Regions from separate parts of the Homo sapiens genome. Here region 2 is linked to region 1. Evidence: fine-mapped expression QTL. Tissue or cell type: blood mononuclear cells. Region 1 holds a variant in brackets; the other region holds the start of a gene. All regions are shown on one strand. Distances are between the middles of the regions.

Evidence for each region. PIP is the estimated chance that this variant, and not a neighbour inherited with it, causes the effect.
Region 2: it holds the start of LRRC7, and the variant in region 1 is fine-mapped to the expression of LRRC7 in blood mononuclear cells (TOPMed, PIP 0.94).

Annotation. Positions count from the first base shown.
Region 1 is chr1:69,625,589-69,636,398 of GRCh38, reverse strand. All of the region lies in intron 1 of LRRC7 (leucine rich repeat containing 7), which reads right to left. Among named protein-coding and RNA genes, the nearest start is that of LRRC7, 63 kb to the right of the region's middle. The variant A/G (reference allele first, on the strand shown) is at 6,186.
Region 2 is chr1:69,563,485-69,574,294 of GRCh38, reverse strand. LRRC7 (leucine rich repeat containing 7) reads right to left here and starts at 6,373. Exons shown (of 27, transcript NM_001370785.2): 1 at 5,654-6,373. The coding sequence starts at 5,655. LOC105378789 (a long non-coding RNA gene) reads right to left here. Exons shown (of 12, transcript XR_947488.3): 12 at 8,445-10,688. RefSeq lists a silencer at 6,720-6,949.

The DNA.
Region 1 (10,810 bases):
ATTTGTAGTGATAGTAGAACTCATTTTTTGAATTTATTGGTGAGGAGAATATATTCTAAAATGCAGCTGGACTTTGAATTCTCATTTTGCCTAAGAAAAATGCCTAACAGATGAAACTGTCATATACAAGTAACATAAAAATTTCTCAATAGATTTAGAATTGAACGGAACTGAATAGAATCACATATGTGGTTGCATGACCTGAAAACACAAATCTGGCCATTCTTTTTTCAAGAAATATAAAACTCTACACTTATCCTAGGTACTATTGAATTGATGCATGGTAGATTCTTTGAAACCAGGAAGTAGGTTTGGTATTCATTCATTTATTCAATCATTCAATGAATATGTCCTAAACAAACTTTTTCAATTTAATATTTTACCTACCAACTTAAAAAGATGAACAAATCCCATTTATTAAGGGAAATTGTTAATTTATTTACTAATATCTGCATGATTTAGGTAAAAATTGATATGTGTTTTGCTCATTTTCACTAATTTAATATCTGCTATTAGATGATTTTCTATGATTCATGCCATTAATATTGACATACTATTTTTTTAAAAAAACATCAGTAATGTGATGTGTATCTTATTTTGATATATCTTTAATTGCATTAGTTTCATAGGTACTGGAGTATATTGCTAGGTTGTGCAAGCACACTATCAACTTTTGGTTGTTTTCTGTGAGCAAACATTATCCTTTGTTCTAAATTGTTATTATTTTTAAAATCCGGACATCATAAAAAGATTATATTGAAAATGTGGTCTGTAAAATAAATTTCAACAGGAAAAATTCCAATTATTTTTATTACAAAAGCATTTTAGATGGATAAACAATTAAAAAATCTTTTTTTGTCAAAAATACAAAGTTTGCATTGTTTGGTTATCTATACCATTTATTACCTCTGATTTTTGCTTTTTGACCTTATCTATTATCTATTTTAGATTCTCAAAATAACTGCATTATCCTTTTAAATTCAATGCACCAAAATTATTCCTGCCATAATAAACATTGTTAAAAAGCAGTTTTAATAGAATTCTTTTTAGTCTTTTGGTAGTTATGGATTAATCACTTTCGCTAAGCTTAAAGCAAACACTAAATACACCATGGAATACTATGCAGCCATAAATAAGAATGAGATCATGTTCTTTGCAGGGACATGGATGGAGCTGGAGGACATTATCCTTAGCAAATGAACACAGGAACAGAAAACCAAACACTGCATGTTCTCATTTATAAGTGGGAGCTAAATGATGAGAGCACAAGGACACATAGAGGGGAACAAACGCTGGTGCCTTTTGGAGGGTGGAGGGTGGAGGAGGGAAGAGATCAGGAAAACAAGTTATGGGTATTAGCCTGATGAAATAATCTGTACAACAAACCCCCGTAACACAACTTTGTCTATGTAACAAACCTGCACATATATCCTTGAACTTAAAATAAAAAGTTTAAACAAGCAATTTTAAATACTTGAATGTCAGACATTTTCTGCTTCTCACTTCTCAATTTTCCGCTCAGTCAAATTTTCTTTTATGTGTGCTTCAGTCTGCGGCCCAGTCTGACTCTGTCATTAGGATCACTGGCTTTCTGTAATCATCTTTAAGTTTAAAAACCATCCCAGAAGCTGAGATGCCAGTGGCTGCATTGTGCCATGTCCAAAGTACCCTAAGAAAGGTGGTCACAGGAATTGTGTACATACAACCAGAGCTCAAAGCTAAGAGAGAAAGGGTAATTTGGATTTCATAGACATAAAGGAACAGAAATCTAATGGAATTCATAGTTAGGTTGACAGAGTGAGCATCTGCTTATCCGGAAAACATAAAAGTTACAAGGTTTCAATAGAACCATAAATCAGGTATGAACAGCATTATTCTTCCAGAACCAAGAAGTATTTTTAGGACTCAAAGCATAGATGAAAACTGTCACAGAAGAGCTGGGCCACATGGGAAAACAGATTCTTAAGGAATCTATCTGCAACATTTTAAAATGATTATCTCAAAGATCTTGCAGACCGCATGAATATATAATGTATTATCTAAAGTTTTCAAAATCAACATAAAATTAGATGACAATATAGCTTGTAGCTATAGCAAGCTCTAGAGCCAGACTACTTAGGAACACTTCATGGCTCTTTCACGTTTTACTCTTGTGACCTTAACAAATCACTTATAATCTTTTTATGTCTCAGTTTCCATATCTGTAAAATGAGTATATTCATACTCTTTATCTAGTTGGACTATTATAAAAATTAAATGTATTAATAGATAAAATTAGAGTAGCACATGACAGATTGTAAGTACTTTCAAAATGTTAATTTTTTATTAAATATTAGCTTTAATGTCACTAAGTATAAGTGAGTTAAATTCTTCTAACATGTTGAAAAGACTCAGACTGGATCAGAAAACAAAGTACAACTATAAGCTATTTATAAGGGTCACACTCAAAACAAAATGACAGGAAAGATTAAATGTAAAGTTTAGACAAAAATATATCAGCAAACAAGAAGAAAAAAAGAAATCAAACATTAAGATAATATTATTTAAGAATTATTTCCTCTTGCCAGGGTGAGGGGTCTGCTAGCCCCATGGCAGGCCCTAGATTAAAAAATAAATAAGTAAAATAATAAAAAGAGTTTTTATAAAATATAACCTTTTAAAAGTATGTTTGGCTGGGCACGGTGGCTCATGCCTGTAATCCCAGCACTTTGGGAGGCAGAGGTGGGCAAATCACTTGAGGTCAGGAATTCATAATCGGCCTGGCCAACATGGTGAAATACTATCTCTGCCAAAAATAGAAAAATTAGCTGGATATGGTGGCACATGCCTGTTATACCACCTACTTGGGAGGCTGAGGCAGGAGAATTGATTGAACCTGGGAGGCAGAGGTTGCAGTGAGTTGAGATCGCACCACTGCATTCCAGCCTGGGTGACAGAGGGAGATTTTGTCTCAAAAATTAAATAAATAAATAAATAAATAACAAAAAAAATTAAAAGCACATTTTAAAGCAAATCACCTTAAATTGGACAGATACAGTAATATAATTTTGATAAAAAGATAAAGTTATTCCATAATCATTAATCTTTAACAATAACAGGACATTAACATATAATCTGTATAAGTGTTGGAATCAAGAAAATTAAAATAAAAAGGACAGTAATTGTAGATTTAACTCATTTTTTAAGAAAGCATTTTACAGAACTTGTAAACAAAAAATATATAAGGAATGACACCTGGATATTATATTATTGTTGATTTAATAGTTCCAGGTCAAACTTGGTATCTTATGGAAACTTTATGAAGTAATCATGGAAGATTTAAAAATATTACTCAGATATTATCCCACAAAGAAAGACTTAACAAGTTTTCAATAGTACAATTGTAAATACTCTATTTCTGTGATCTCATTGCATTAAAATTACAAAGTATTAATACAAAGCAAAAAGGAAAGAAAAAACTTTCAATTATTTGGAAATTATAGAAATGCTCTACTTAACTCTTGGACCAAAGAGAAAATTAAAACTATTTAATTTTTAATTAATTTTACTTCTAAAATTAGAAACTACTTAGCAAAATGGTAGTCATAAAATTACATATTTATTCATTAATCCCATATATAGTCATTATTCTAGTCACTGAGACTCCAATAATGAACAAGATAAATTCGGTACTTGCTTGGATGGCACTTAGTGTCTGCTTGGGGAAAAGTGAGAGGCATTTACTCATTAACTCAATCACTCACTCACTCAATAAACCCAAGTCAACAAATAACCACAGTGGGGCAAAACACTATGAGAAGAGAACAAAATATGATGATAATAGAACAGTGATTTGGAGTACTAAAAGACGTTAAAGGGAAAATTAATGTAAAATGGCTTCTTGAAAAATAAAATCAGTAAAGTGGGCTTTATCTCTCTAATTACATAAAATGATTAATCAAAATTAAATACAATTTAGAAGGAATGATAGAGAAAATTTAAAATGCTATAAGGGAGTACTTGGCACTCAGCTAACTGTAAATTTAATAAATATTTATAAGCCATATATCACAGTGCAAGTATTGTGCTAGGTGCTGAGGACAAAACTGTGTCCTATCCTCACATAGCTCAGAGTCTAGTGTGGAAGCTACAATGTGAAGTATCTGGGGAAGTACAATATAATGTGATCATTGCTGGAGGGATGGAGGGAAACAATGGGTGCTGTGGGCACATGGGAGTGGCCACTTGCCACAGGAAGAAATGCATGGGGTCCTAGCCAGAGGGAACAGCTTGCACAAAGTCACTAAGGTTATAGAGAAGACATTTTATTAGATAACCTAAAGATTCAGACTGGCTGATGCAGAGAGAAGAAAAATATTTAAAAATTTAAAAAGAGGCTGTATTGGAAAAGGAGGAAAGACTTTAAATCAGAAAGTCTTGTAAGACATGATAAAGGTTTTTATTTAAACCTTAAGTCAACAAGGGAGGCTTTGGAGTGATATGAGTAGGAAACAGACATGATCAGATTTAAGATTAAGATGTATACTCTGGCAAGAGAGTTGAAAACAGACTCTGAACACACTGAGCAGGATGATTATGAGTTTGAGTTTATCAAGCAGCCAGCTAGAGTGTAGTAAGATCCAAAGGTAGAGATCGGGCTTTTAGGAAAAGTGGTAGAAGAAGCCTAAACACTTCACTATTATCTAATTGAACAGAGCTCTGCATTGAGGGTTATCTCACACCAGCCCACCTTTGATAACAAAATGGCATTTTCTCTTTACTTTTTGGCAACTCTTGCCAAAAAAGCTCTCATGGGGCTTTACGGAGAGGGGAAAGAAGCGACTGTCGGGGGAGGACCTTGGCCTCCCTGGGGCCCTGGCCATAATGATGTCAAACAAAACTAGAACATCACCCCCATCCACAATCATCAAGATGACATCACACCTTGAGATAAACCTTGTAGCTACAAGTCAGAGTTTTAAAAAATGAGGAGAGATGCTGTCCTATGGCAAAACTCTGAAGAATATCAACAATGAGATGATTTGAGTTCAAGGCGTGTAAAGACTGAGTAGTAGTCAGAAAGCAAGGACCAAAATGGGTAGGATATGGTATCATGTAAAACAGCAGAAAAAAAAATTTCATAGAAAATGTGCTTACTTTGGTCATTTGCAGCCTTGGTAAGGGCAAGTTAAGTCGACCAGTGAAGACAGAAATCCACATTGCAGTGAATTAAGGTATAATAGGGTTTCGAAAAGTGCAGACATAAAGAAAAGATATTTAAGGTGATAGACATTCCAATTACCCTGATTTGATCTGTACACATTATATGGATGTATAAAATTATCACAGGTACTCTGAAAATATGTACTTCTATTAAGGTTCAATAAAAAAAAATGAAAAAAAGAAGTGCAGGCAGTCAATGTACACAATTTCCTCAAAAGGAGTGATTTTTAAAGCATGTAACCCAAAAGCCAAAAAGAAGAAGTTACAGATCTGGCTATATAAGCAATTTTTACAAAATTTTTACAAAATTGCTTATACATCATGTATTTGGCCAATATTTTCTCCTAGTTTGTTGCTTGTCTAATTCTTTTGACAGTTTCTTTCACACAGCAGAAATTTCAACTTTATTTGGTATATCAAGCAATTAAAAAAGAAAAAAATTATAATATTTATTCACAAATGGCTCCAAGAAATATAAAAATAAAAGGGTAAAAGATAGAAAATAGGCATCTAATAGAAAAAGAAATAGCCAATGAATATTTGGAAAGGTGCCCAATATTATTAATCAATAAAAAATTGAAACTGAAGTAAAATGATTAATCAAAAGCATGTACAATTAAAAATGATTGACAGAAAATTTCAGATTTTAGATTAAAACATTTAGATTTTAGATTAAATAATATTCGTTACTAATAACAAAATAAAGGTAGCAAGTATAGGTAAACTGGACTGTAGATGGGCTGGCAATCATTACAGACATTTTATAAGGCAATTTGGCAGTAAGTATCATGCCTTTAAACACTTAACTCTCAACCTATTAATAGGAATTCTGTAAATCTACCATATAGAAATATGTGCTAATTTTACTATTGTTTGAAATAGCACAATATTGAAAACTGTCCACCAATAGGGAAGTGGGCAACTCTTTTAAGAATGTTTGCAGTGGATAGCAGAGAAATAGATTATATATACGGAAGACATCC[A/G]AAGTTGTTTGCTATTAATAGAAAATTCTTGTAGAAGTTAAAATGAGGAAGGAAGGAACAAGAAAATAGAGAGATGTTGGAGATACAGAAAATATGGATAAATGCATGGATGGAGGCAGAATACAATGTAATCTAATGCACAGGCAGAGAAATCACCATTATAGGAAGCAGGACACTGGAGGGAAAAAAAGAGGATAGGTGCACATGCCAAGATGATTATATATTTGGTGACAAGAAATTGATAAATTTCACATCTGATGATGTCTATATTCTCTGTGATTTAAGAAGAAAACTAGCTCAGCTGTTGAGAGTTGAAAGGGTGATAGTGAAGTTAGATTTTGGGAAAGTGACAAAGATAAGAAATAGTTACTGAATAAAATGAGAACAAGAAATTAATAATAAAATATAGAAATATTAACTTTAATAGCATCAATCTATGCATTATTTACTTTCCTCTACAGTTAACATAGGCAGAGAGAGAGGGAAAGAACATGACAGTAATTAAGAATAACAAAGAGAAAGTAATTGAGAATATATTGAAGATACATTGGATAAAGTGACATACTAAAGAGTCAAAACTATGTCAAAATAGAGATGAAATAAAGAGAATTTGGAGAGAGAAAGTGTAGTCATCCTGGGACTAGAATCTCTGTGTGTTTGAATAATAGGTTATAGACCAAGTGACTGAGCTTGGAGACGTGCAGGTTGCAGAGTGGGATGCTTAAGTGTACGGTTACAAAGAGTTGGTATTTCCAGCTGATAACATGGTTCAAGGCAGGCATAATATACTCCTCGATGGAAATACTGTCTAAATACTATAAATATTTTAATACTTCTTCATTTATGTATTCTTATTTATAGTTTCAAACAAAATCTCTATTCAACTAAAAAAGTTGCCAAAGTGGTATCTGTCCACATCTTTTGCTTATTTTTTAATCAGATAATTCATTTTCTTATGTTGAATATTAATAGTTGTACATCTTGGATAACAGCCTTTTCTCAGTTATGTTTTTTGCCAATATTTTCTCCCAGTTTGTTGCCTAATTCTCTTGACAGTTTCTCTCAGAGAACAGAAATTTCAAATTTTAATGAAATCTTATCAATGATTTCTCTCATTGATCATGCCTTTGGTGTTATAGCTAAAAAATGCACTTCCAAACCCAAGGTCATCTAGATTTTCTCCTATGTAATCTTCTAGAAGTCTTACAGTTTTAAGTTTTACCTTTAGGTCTATAATCCATTTTGAGCTATTTTTTGTGAAGGGTGTAAGGTCTGTGTCTAGATTCATTTTCCTGCCCATATATATCCAGTTGTTCTAGCACATTTGTTGAAGAGACTGTCTTTTCTCCATTGTACTGTTTGTGATTCATTGTCAAAGATAAATTGACTATATTCTATGAGTTAATTTCTGAGCTTTCTATTCTGTTCCACTGATCTATTTGTCTATTCTTTGCCAATACCAACATTGTCTTGATTACTATAGCTTCATAGTAGTTGGAGTTCAGTACTTTCATCATCTGGACTTGGTTCTTTTCCTTCAATATTGTGTTAGGTATTCGTGTGTTTGCCTGTTCACATAAACTTCAAAAACACTTTGTTGATATCCACAAAAGAACGTGATGATATTTTGATTGGGATTACACAGAATCTATGGATCAGGCTGGGAAAAACTGAGATCTTGACAATATTGAATCTTCCTATCTATAAATGGTGAATATCTCTGAGTTTACTTAGTTATTTGATTTCTTTTATCACAGTTTTGCAGTTTTCCTAATATTGATCTTGTACATATTTTGTTAGACTTACACCTAAGTATTCCATTGGGGGAATGCTAATATAGATGGTATTGTGTTTTAATTTCATATTTCACTTGTTCATTGCTGTATATAAAAAAGCAACTGACTTTTGTGTGTTGACTTTCTATCCTATGACTTTGGTATAAGCACTTATTCCAAAAGAATTTTTTTTACTCATTCTGACTTTTCATATAGATGACGGTGTTATCTGCAAACAAAGACAATTTTCGTTCTTTCTTTCCAATACATATACCTTTTATTTCCTTCTTTTCTCTTATAGCATTAGCTAGGACTTGCAGTACAATGCTGAGAACGAGTAGTGAGAGAGATATTTTTGCCTCGTTCTGGGAAAGCTTCAGTTTCTCCCCATTAAATATGGTATTAAGGAAACAATTTTGAGAAGACAATGCCTAGTGAAAAGAGGCATATACCAAATATATTAAGTATAATATAAAGCTAACAAAAGTAAACTGTAAACTGTGGTATTTGTAAAAACTGATTATGTTGGAATAATTGGTTAAGCTTTTAGAGCAAAAGGAGTTAGATCTTTATCTTACATTATATACCAAATTATATTCCAATTCAATTAAAGACTTAAATAAAAAACAAATTGAAACCAAAACATATACAACAAAAATTAAGAGAATAATATACTCATGATATTCTCCGAGTGGGAAGACTTTTCTAATGATAAAATTTTAATGTTAGATCTAAAACCATAAAAACCCTAGAAGAAAACCTAGGCAATACCATTCAGGACATAGGCATGGGCAAGGACTTCCTGTCTAAAACACCAAAATCAATGGCAAAAAAAGTCAAAATTAACAAATGGGATCTAATTAAACTAAAGAGCTTCTGCACAGCAAAAGAAACTACCATCAGATTGAACAGGCAACCTACAGAATGGGAGAAAATATTTGCAATCTACCCATCTGACAAAGGGCTAATATCAAGAATCTATAGAGAACTTAAACAAATTTAAAAGAAAAAATCAAACAACCCCATCAAAAAGTGGGCGAAGGATATGAACAGACACTTCTCAAAAGAAGACCTTTATGCAGCCAACAGACACATGAAAAAATGCTCATCATCACTGGCCATCAGAGAAATGCAAATCAAATCCACAATGAGATATCATCTCACACCAGTTAGAATGGTGATCATTAAAAAGTCAGGAAACAACAGGTGCTGGAGAGGATGTGGAGAAATAGGAACACTTTTACACTGTTGCTGGGACTGTAAACTAGTTCAACCATTATGGAAGTCAGTGTGGTGATTCCTCAAGGATCTAGAACTAGGAATACCATTTGACCCAGCCAACCCATTACTGGGTATATACCTAAAGGATTATAAATCATGCTGCTATAAAGACACAAGCACATGTATGTTTATTGTGGCACTATTCACAATAGCAAAGACTTGGAACCAACCCAAATGTCCATCAGTGATAGACTGGATTAAGAAAATGTGGCACATATACACTATGGAATACTATGCAGCAACAAAAAAGGATGAGTTCATGTCCTTTGTGGGGACATGGATGAAGCTGGAAACCATCATTCTCAGCAAACTATCGCAAGGACAAAAAACAAAACACCGCATGTTCTCACTCAAAAGTGGGAATTGAACAATGAGAACACTTGCACACAGGATGGGGAACATCACACACCGGGGCCTGTCATGGGGGGGCGGAGGAGAGGGGAGGGGGGAGGGATAGCATTAGGAGATATACCTAATGTAAATGATGAGTTAATGGGTGCAGCACACCAGCATGGCAAATGTATATGTATGTAACAAACCTGCACATTGTGCACATGTATCCTAGAACTTATAGTATAATAATAATAATCATAATAAAATTTTAAAATAAAGTATTATAAGAAATGTCTACACTAAAGTGAAACTTCTGGAGGAATAAAATCATAAGCAATATTTAAAAATCTGCTTTCATTAATGGTGATGAATGTAATTCAGACCAACCCTTCTAACTGAAAATAGATTTAAAAATCTGGATTTTTTTTTTTTTTTTTTTTAGATTCTAAGTAAATGCATCAGAGAGTTAACAAGGCAGTAAAGAAATATGGGGTCAAGATCCAGGGCAATAAATACCCAGAAAGCTGAGTCTAGCCTTTTCCTCAGGGGCATCTGCCAGTTCTCAAAACATACCATAGATTCTGACAATCTTTTGGGGCCAAAATAAGATCAAGGTCCTCAAGCAAGATGTTCCTGAGGGTTACACCCTAGAAATAAGAATGAATCAGATATTAACGGGTCCCAAGATGGACTGAAATCCATCTCAGAATAATCTCAGATGTTACATAACTAATAATGGAGCCTCATACAAGTTAAGTAAAAGTTTATAGAATTAAAAGCAAAAATAGATCATTTACATAGTGAGAAATTTTCATTGAACAAGCAATAACAAAATTAGTAAGAATATAGGACATTTGAACAATACGATTTTTAAAAAATTATCTTATTTACATCTATAGAACACCAGACCAATGGCAAAACACACATTGTATTCAAATACACATGGAACATACGAGTTTCTTCAAATTTCAAATATTTGGAATTTAGCAAGAAATAATTGGCATAAAGGTAACTAGAAAATTCCAGATGTTTAGAAATTCAGAAAAAAGTATTCTAAACAGCCCCCGGATCAAAGAAGAACTCAAAATACAAATTAAAACATATTTTTGAAACAACAATAATGGAAATGCTACATGCCACATTTGTGGGAATTTTGTAGCTATATTTGTTTATAGCTAAAATCTATTTATAGCCAAACTTGTGAGGTGTTTATAGCTATAAATGAATATATTAATT
Region 2 (10,810 bases), 62 kb after region 1:
TACCATTTCTTTTTACCTATGAAAATTTCATGATGATAATGATAGTATTTATGCTATTGTTTTGTTTTAAGGTCAGCTACCTCTTTTCTATAATTGAAATCAATAGCTTCTCACTTGTTCTCATACTACTTTACCTCTTGAGTACTACAACATTTAAATATCTCCCTCATCTGACCCACCCCGCCACACACACAAGTATCCTAGAGTTCCACTGTTTTTAACTTAAGCCATTTGTTATGATACTACCTTGGGCATACCTATCCCCTTGTGTTAAGTATGCTTTCAACCTTACTGAACTTCGTGTACAGCAAAAATATCCTGGCACAACTGAAGAAACTGCATCTTTAAGAAGCCTATAAATGAATTATTTAAACAATGTAAACAACTGCTCCATTGTTAAAATATTTAAACACATCATGTCAATGTTAATAGACATTTCAATGCTTCATCCCTGACAACTACTATTTCTTTCACGTGTATTGAAGTAAAATAATATTTTGTATAGAGATTTTAAGTAGTTTATTAAGCAATGAACAATAAAATGAGAATGAGTGTACACAGGAAATCCTTTGGGTTATTAATGTATTTAATATTTTTCCCATGTCTTTGAATGACAAATGATAATGTTTCTATTATGAATAATAATTTAATTAGCATATATGATGCCTCCCCAGGGGCTTAATTATCAAGTGCATCATCATAGTTTCAAAATAGACATGACAGCTATTGACTCAAAATTTGCTTTATTGAAAACTTCCATAATGTACTTTTATATGACAGATTCTACTAGATTATTAAATTTCTGTCGTGAATGAATTATTCCAAGATAATAAGCAACAGTATTTTCTATACCTACATTAAATAATAGTCCAAAAATAATAGGGTGTATTATCACCAAATATACAGCTTTCAAAAGCTGGTTCAAAATCTTAATCTTTCTTTGTACACCAGGAAAAACTTCCATAATCTACAGATTTAAGTTATTTACCGAACTTCAATTTATGCCATGAAGAAGAGAGCACAGAATGGGGAAAAATGAACAGGGGCCAAATCTGGGCTTAAATCTTGGCCCATCACTTTCCACGTGGCATGGATTTGCCACTTGCTGTCTCTGAGTTTCAGTTTTCTAATCTTCAAAACAGTGAGAATCATGCTTCCTGTAGGATTATTTTGAAGTAAAGCACATGACTCATGGTAGGAGTTTAGCAAGCAGTAACTTATTATAATTATGATTACAGTTCAGGTACTATGGTAGGGGAGGCAGTATGACAAGTGATGTTCATGGATTTCTGAGCATATTCACTTTTTTTGAGATAGGAAATAGACATATTTGATTATTTAAATGGCATGCTTTTAATTACACCATTATATAATATACATAATTATACTATGCTATCACTAAACAGAACCACACACACACATACCCCACACACACATTACTACAGAAAAACTAATCTATACAAAAAAGTTTATACTTCACTCTTCTAAAATTTCCAAACCACATTTCATGTACCCCTTTGTCTTCTTTGGTATGTCCTGCAGTTATAAAATAGTAATTATTGCCACCTCTATTTTATCTTGTTAAAAGAGATGTATTACCTAAGATTGCATATTACTTCTAGACATACCTAAGTTTTTCTTACTCCTCTTTCACTATCTCAGGGTAATACTCTACAGTTGTTTCTATAAAAATGTAATTATTTCTAATGATTCAAACCTGAGTCACATAAATAACATGGTTAAAAGCCACATAAAGAAAAAATACTATTGATTTGTGGCAACCATCATTCAAACATTGTTGATTTATAGTGCCACTTTTCATTCTGAGTTTTTATTGACAATTCACAAATAAGTTTTTTAAAACATATGTGAAGCCTGTCTATGAATCTCCTTCTTTTGATTTAGGTATTTGATTTAATTACAATAGCTTATATAATTTGCTTTTTTGTTCCATCAGAATATAATATAATTTGCTTCATTATAGGTTTAAATTGCTATCTTTATATTAAAATTTTATTTCTTAATATTGAAACATTGAAAACTCTCTATTGAAGACTGATGTTGACTGCTAAATTAAAGAAATTCAGAGTGAAAACTTCAACATTCTCCAAAGAGCCTAGAGTCATCTCCAATGATATCTTTCCGTGGCAATAAAAATTAGTTAATGGTAACTCGGCTTGTCATAAACTAAAAGTCTGTTATATGTCACAGATTTGAATTAACATTCCCCTAAAGTCATCTTGCAAATTTACATGGCTCCAAAAAAGAATGTGGATGATACTCTGCAAAGTAGTCACTGTTATTAGAGACAACAAAATACACCAAATAATGTCTTTCAGTGGTAGTGTGGCTATTATAACTACTGTGTTCAACAGCATATATGTTTGAAATAATTTTTTCAAAAAACTATGAAATAATTTGTGTGAAGAAAGAAAATGTAATAAGAATCCATAAATAATTCAGATGATAATTCATCAATAATTGGTTACTCTTCGTGTAGTCGGTTAATCTGAGTAAGCAATGAAGTTATAATCTCGTGGAATGTGTGATTCCTTCTTATATTGGGGCCACAGTCATTCAGCAAATAAAATTTTAGTATCTCTAAGTGTAATTTTGATACATCAATTAAAACCTAACATCAATATTTTATCTGTTCTAAAAAGTGAATGTTTTAAAGTTGTGATTAACAAGACCAAGTTTTTGTATCAAATATTTAATCATGTACTATATGCTGAAATAAGAGAGATCTACAAGTACCACTGGAATGAACATCATATAGATAATATAGTTTATTACTTTCATAAGCAATAACATTCATATTAATTTATATCTTCGTGATTTTTTGAAATCCAAAGAAAACAAAAATGCAGATGCACAAAAACACTTTAAGCTTATGTTCTGTATTTTATAAGGGAATTAGAAAAATTAAAAGCTTAAAAAAGAAAGTGGAATAAGAATTTAATTGGGAAAATGTTAATGACAGCCTAAAGCTGCACTAAAATTCTGAATAAAACATGGCTACTGCAACTGGACCAGGTTTCTTTATGAAGTTGTTTCTAATTCTAAGCTGCATATGTGCAGACACAAGTGATGTAGAATTTATGTGTTGGCCATGGTAAGTACACATTTTTTCTTGGATAGTCAGTTTTTTCTTAAAAATGTATAAAGAACTCTCACCTCATAATAAGTCATGAAAATTGACTGTTTTTCTTATCATTACATATTAGTATGATGCAATGCAGCATAACACATAAATAAACCACCTTTTAAAAACTTTAGCCTACTAAGATGGATTATAAAACATTAAGTGAAAATGAAATAAGAAATCTCCAAGTCAGGTAACTCTAAATGTTGGGTCATAAACAAGTTATATCTCCACTAAATTAATAAATATTCTGACCTCAGGACATTTTCCACAGGCCTGAGACACCTCAGAAGTCCAAACTCAATCACTAAACACACCCCCAATATACTTTAGCCATATGACTCTTAAGGAAACATAAAATCATTCCTACATCCCTATTTGCTCATTTTTCCCCCTGTGCAATCAATGATTTCTAAAAAGTAAAGACTTCATTGCTTTACTGTCTTTTGTAAAAACAAACAAACAAAAAACAACAAACAAACAAAAAACACCTCGTGGTAGTTCCCTTAGAGTCCTTCCTGGAAGCCAATTCAAGGAAGCCTGGACGGAGGCGTGACACTTGGACTGGGAAGGTGGTGTAATCTGTTGCGAATCACAGCAGGTTCTGAAGTGCTGGAGAACCCACGTGTGCAGGGGCTGGAGAACTTTTCCACCGTCTCCCAGAGGAAATGCCTCATTTTAAAATAGGGGGCTGGCTGGAGCAAGGGGTGGGGGTGAAGGGTGGGCGGTAAAAAAAGGCAGAGGCGAAGCTTTCAAACCGTTCACGCATGTCTACCTGTGCTTATTTTCCCTCTATTTCGCCTCCGATCAACTTTATTATTATTATTATTATTATTTTCCTTCTATAGGAGGACTTAAGCAACCAGGATGCTGAACATCTCATAGGCTCAGGCTGGAACAAAGAAAATCGAGTTCCTAATACTGTATCTCACCCGTTGGAGGGATCACGTGTCCTGCTTTCGCTGGAATGCACTCTTCTCGCCCACGCTATAAAAATCTCTATTGTGCTTAGAAATTTCGCCTAGGTTAGAATATGCTCACAAAAAATTGCTTTTCATCCACCAGGAGAGCCACATTTCGACATATACAGATACAAATCTATTTACCTGCTGACCCAGTTACCACTGCAGGTAAATTCGATGTGTTGAAAGAGTATTGGGAAAGTAATTGAAAAGAGCAGGGGGAGGACCCCTGTGTCTTACCGATCCCCACCCCCATCGCTTTTTTTTTTTTTTTTTTTTTTGTAATTCCTTTTGAAGGAGAACTTCGAAAGGAACGTGGGAGTCGCAGATGGTTCCTTTCTGAAGCCGATTCCTGGGAGTTGTGAAAGTGACCCCGTCTCTTCTCTGCCTCGAGCTGTGCCCTCTCGCCCAACCCGCTCGCTTTATGACTTGATGGGGAAGAGACAGCCAGAGAAGAGCCGGAGTAGAGGGCGGAGGCGGGTCCTTTATTCAGCCCTGATGGCCGAGAAGTAGTGTAAGGAAGCAATCTTTCAGCCATCTCCGTTATTATGAAGTCACACTATTTTAAAAGGCAATCTATACAGTCCCCCAACCCCCGCCCCCATTCTTGACTCTGCAAACAGTAAGATTAGAGACCACTGGTAGCCAATCTAATAGTCCACGAGCCAGGGTGCCATGATTACCTTAATGCTAATGTGCTTCCCTCCCTCTTTCCACGTCGAATCCGAAACACGTCCTGCATCCTTAATAACTCGGAGAGGAGGACGCAAGATCCTCAAGGGGACCCAGCGCTGGATTGGGAATAGGCAGGTTCACCAGCTTCTCGTGCCACACAAAGGAGATGTGTGGGCAGGAGTTGTCTAGCTGACAGGGAGGGAGGCAAGGTTCTCCCTGACTCCCAGGGAACACGCTCCCCCACTTCTTTCCGTCCTCCAGTCTTTCATGTTCCTTCGTCCCCTCCATCCCCCCAAACCCCACCCTTTCCCTTCAATCCCAATCACATAAAAATCTTCTAATTGTATTTTTTCAAACAGACATCGAGACATTGATACAACACCTTCCAAGATAAAGAGACAAGTGCGTCCTGCCACAAGTGTGTGTGAGTGTGTGTGTGTGTGTGTCACGATCAAACACGCGCTTCATCCCTCAGACACCTCTGGGAAAAAAGCTGACTGGAGATACCCAAGATAATAACGAGGAGCTAAACCTAATTTCAGCGGAACCAATGGTCCCAGCACCAGCGCCCAACATTTACCTTTCCTTTTCGCAGTATGTAACCCTTTAAGGTCTCTTGCCAGCTCAAGCTACTCGGTGCTCCCATGCACCCGCCCAGTTAGCACCCCATTTCCAAATGCTCTGCAACCTACCACATCTTCGCCGCCTCCCTCGGCCACCGCACAAGCAGCTCCCCGCGAGCGCCGAAGCCTCCCGCCCTGCCACCCCCGCCCCCGGCCGGCCTCTGGGGTCCCACACCTCGCGCGCCTACGGTCGCCGCGGCCGGGCCCCCGCAGCACCCTCCGCCACGGAGCGAGCGTGCCTTACTCACATCGCCGGCGGGAGAAACTGCCCATGAGGTTTCGGAGAGCGTAGTCGTGCAGCTGCCAAGGGTTATTCCTTAAGTGTTCAGGGGTCCGCAGTGGAGTGGGCGCCAGGGTCTTCGGAGGAGAAGAGGAGGGAAGGAGTAGAAGGTAGGAAGAACAGGAGATAGAGGGGAATCCAGGAAGGTGCCACGTTAGACCATGATGCCAGTGCCCTTCAGGTGGACGGCTGGAGAGGTTCCCGCGGGAAGCGGCTGAGGGGAAGCCCGAAGCGCCGGCGGGGGAGGCAGGAGCGCGTCCACTCCCCAGCCTCAGCCTGCCCAGCGCGCCGCGCTAGCGACCGCAGCAGCAGCGGCGGCGGCGGCGGCGGTGGCGGAGGCGCAGCTCCCTCCCCGCCCCCAGAAGGCTCCACAGACAATAAATCCTGGGCGGAGAAGAGACAAGCAGGAAAGGCGAATCCTGCACCCAACTCCGTAACAACCCCTGCCCGTTGCCGCGCCTGTGCAGGGCGAGGATCCCCAGGGGCCAGGGCGCAGCGGGCGTCTCGGAGGGGCTGAGCGCTCCGCAACTGCAGGAGGCGGTGGCGGTGGCCCGAGTGGGCGGCTGCAGGTCCCGCCGGCGAGAACCCGCTGCACTGGGGCTGGGTGTCCGTGGCTTCAAGCCCGGTGTTCACCCGGAGTAGGGTCCTCCTCGGTGCAGTGGCTCGGCGCACAGGTGCCAGGATTGGCAGGCGAGGAGGCGCCGCTCATGGCTCTTGGCTGTGTCTCACCGCTCTCCCCGCCCCCTCTCTTTTTTCCCACCCCCTTTTCCGACGACACCAGCTGCAGCTGCTTCAAAGTGTGAAAAATGTCAAGGAGATTTTCCAATGATAGGAGGGGGTAACCATGTTCACAACCCTCGGTCTCTTTTTGAGATCCTCGCCTGTCCCTCTGACCTCTACTCCGGCTCCCCCAAATTATGAGAAGAAAAATCCCAGTCCTGCACAGGATTGAAACGCTAGCCTTCTCCCGGCTCCGTCACGATAGGCTGCTTTTCGAGAACGGGACGAGAGGCCGAGCTCTCTGGGTTCCTCTCGCCTCCGTGGTGTTCGAGGCAGGTGGCACGAATCTCAGCGCGGGGCGGAGCGCGGCTGCCGGCTCCTCCCGCTCGCGGGCCAGCCCCGGGCGCTCGGGCAGCGCGGCGCGGCTTTCTGCAGCGCGGCCGCCTGAGCGGCAGAAGCGGCTCCCGGCCTGTGCGCCTGCCTGAGCGCCCCTGCACCCGCACTAGCTCAGTGACGCTGAGCTCGTGGCTCCTCAGGCTGCTGCTCCTGCTATCTCAGCAAAGAGGCGGCCGGGAGCGCCTCCTCGGGGTTTCCTCCCCCGCCCGCCTTGCCTGCTGCAGGTTGTTGGCTGCCAAGGAGAAAAGTCTCCGCTTGTGCGTCAGGTCGCTTCACATCAGTCATGGCAGCGAACCTTGTGCCTGCTCTTAAGTCCTCTCCTCATTCTGGGGTTGCGGCTGCTGCCCTGGGAGTGCACAAAAAGGGAAGGGTTTTCCCAACTTCCCTTCATATATTCACCGCCCCTCCTCCTGCCATGAACATTCTCTCTGACACACACACACACACACACACACACACACACACACACACACACTCTCTCTCTCTCTCTCATATGCTCCCTTACGTAAAGGCACACACACTTTCTTCTTATACGCTTCTCTAAAGTCCCAGAAGCAGCAAGACATATCAATGAAGCTAGTACTATATTTACACTTTTTTTTTTTTTTTTTGAAACGGAGTTTCGCTCTTGTTGACCAGGCTGGAGTACAATGGCGCGATCTCGGCTCACTGCAACCTCTTCCTCCCCGGTTCAAGCGATCTTCCTGCCTCAGCCTCCCGAGTAGCTGGGATTACAGGCGCGTGCCACCACGCCCGGATGATTTTTTTTGTATTTTTAGTAGAGACGGGGGTTTCACCATGTTGCCCAGGCTGGTCTCGAATTCCTGACCTCAGGTGATCCACCTGTCTCGGCCTCCCAAAATGCTGGGATTATAGACGTGAGCCACCGTTCCCAGCCTATATTTACACTTTTATTCTCTACACACATCTAATGAATTACATCTTTAAAAAAGGATATATTATGCTGGTATTCTTTTGTGGAATATAGGCTATGTGGTTTTTGTTTCTTCATTACAAGAGAGAAAGAATCTTGTCTTTAGTTCTCTAACCTCGAACACAGTCAAGACTGTGCACAGCATTCAAATGCCACTCTGGGGGTGTGTGTAAGCTCACAGTTTGCCAAAAGAAAACACACCTGATTGTATTCTTAGATTTGGAATGCTAAAGTCTTCAAGGTCAAAAATTATGTTTCCTGGCTGCTAGAAATTGTCTAGGAAGAGACTTGAGAGACTGGCACCTAATGTGCGGAGGACCTAGAGAGGAATTATTGCCCACTTTATCTGGGCCATGAAGGTGGGCTGACTTTTAAGGACAACTTGCCAGTGTTTCATATCATTTGCATATAGAAAGGAAAAGGAGTATATTTTGAAAAGCCAGATCGTTTTTTATATTGTTACAAAACACCAAAAGAAAGGGCTCTGAAAATGGCAAGGAAATGGAATAAAATTGTTAAAAGAATTTTTTTTGAATTGACTACTGTTGTGCTCTGTTTTTTTTTCACCTATAGTGTTGTCCTTTTAAACATTTTGCCACATCTCAATGTCTCTGCTGGATGAAGTGACATGAAATATTTTAGGTGCTGATTAAAAATGTATTGACAAAATAACCTGGCGCAACAATTACACAATTATAGCGGTCCTTTATGGGTTTCCAGTTCTTTTTAATACAGTCAACACAGTACTTTCACATATATTCTTTCATTTAATCCTTTCTTAAATCTAGGTGGTGGATAATCTAATCCACACTTACAGGAAGGGCACAAAGGCTCATCTCATAAGGGTGTCCAGTTGCCCTGCACTTGAGCCCAGAATTTCTTATTTTAACTTCAGGCTTCATTGTTTTGTATCAAAATATTTGACAAAAATTATTCTGTTTAAAAACACAGCCAGTTATGAGTAACTGCAGATCCTTGCATACAGGCAGCATACCTACCAATGAAGTTACCTTCTGTGTGTTAAGTGGAAGTAGTTTCCTACGTGGAAACAAACGTATTCCTTTCCAATGGAGAAAAAGATAATTTTGGAACCCCGAATTAAAAATTGATGGTGCTGATATAACACATTTCAAACTACATGTCCTCCTTTCCCATTTATCTTGTCCTAGAATCTTGATTTTGGACCATAAAAATCCAATGGATAAAATACTTTAAATATGTTCAGATGTCCACCTAATTGTTATGGGTTTTAACAAACAGGATTATAAGGTGTAAAGAGAAGGTATTCTCTTTAGAATAAGCTTTGAATACAACGGCTCCATATTTTTGTAAGATTATGAATCTTGAACAAAATCTGGCCACCTTTACTATTTAAACAATGAGACATTGAAGAGATTTCAGTGGTTTCATAGAATTATGGAACTATTGAAATGCAAATGCAGGTGCTGTCTTTAAACTTCAAGCTGCCCTGTCATCAACCCTCTGGAAATGCAGATGACTGTCTAAAAATTGGAGAAAGATAAATGCTAAATATACTTTGGATGTTGTTCAAGCAGAGGCCCAACACTAAAAACTATCACCATTTTACAAATTAGATCAAGGCAGTTTTAACAGATTTGATGTTCCTATTACATCTATAAATGTTTAGACATTAAGGCTATAAAATTTTGCAAGTTGTTAATCAATTTCTTTGACCCACACTGCTAAAATCTTTGAAATGATAATGCTTCTTAGGATAAGCAAGACTAACCTTATTTGAAAATAAAACTCATGGCGATATTAAACAATAAGATGTCAAATATCTTTGAATATTTCCCTTTGGATGCCTGAAATGCTACACTTGTCGTAAAAGATATCCCCTTTGGCAATTACTCATTAAAATAAAAGTACATATAGACAGGATAACACTTTTAGTTTTTGAGTTGTTAGTATCTTAACAGGATTGGCTTAATTAGATACTGGTAATTAGGGAAATAGAAAACATTACTGAATTTTGATGCATGAAGATGAAGGTCTGAAAACCTCAGAGACAGTAGACCTTAGTAAGACAGGATCAGTATGAGTGGGGTACTGTAAGGGTGGACAGTGATGCTTTGTTGTGGTTAGTTTTTGAAAAACCAGGCTGAGGTTCTGAATAGAAAATGGAGGTAGGTCATTAAGATTTTTCTTCAAATGAATTTGTTAGAGGGCTTTTACTATGAAATTGGCCTCTCAAATTAACAATCTGTTCTAGCTAAAGAAAATGCTTCTTTATTGTGGATTTTAATTCATTTGAATAATTATTTTGTAAACATTAATTTGCCTAAGATGAAAAAATACAGTGACCACTGATATACCCATTATGCCCATTAAGAAAGCATTATGGATATGACTGAAGCCTCCTCTCCCATTCCTCTCTCTGTCCACCCCATTCCCCCACACACAAAAGATAACCTCATTTCTAAATTTTGTATTTATTTGTACATTTATACATTCATACATTTTGTGCACTTTGAGTACTAACAATATTTTTGTATCGCTTAGCATAGGTAACCCTTATATAAATGATATAATACAGTATGCATTCTTTTGCAAATTGCTTTTGATTTTTAAAATATCAACATTATGTAAATAATAATGATTCATATTCATATGTGTCACTCTGGTTGACTGATTTTTGATGCTGCATAATAGTTAATTGTATAAACTCACCACATTCACATTCTGATGACAGTTTTTACTATTATAAGTAATACTGTTGGGAACATGTTTGTTTATATCTCTTTATGAATGTGCATAAAAATTTTTCTAGTTAATGTATCACCTAGGAGTGGATTTCTGTTTCAGGGTATGATACAGTCAATATTAAATTGTTTTTCACATGGTTTACAGTTTTATTAGTATTTGTAAGAGTTTTTCTTGGTCCACACTCTGGCAATACTTGGTATTATCAGACATTTTCATGTTGTCCAGCCTAAGGGGTGTAAAAAGGTACTTTATTAAGGTTTACATTCACATTTCCTTTCTTACTTATGAGGTTGAGCAGCTTTTAATAGGTTTACCATTCCCATTTTCAATATGAATTGCTTATTTATA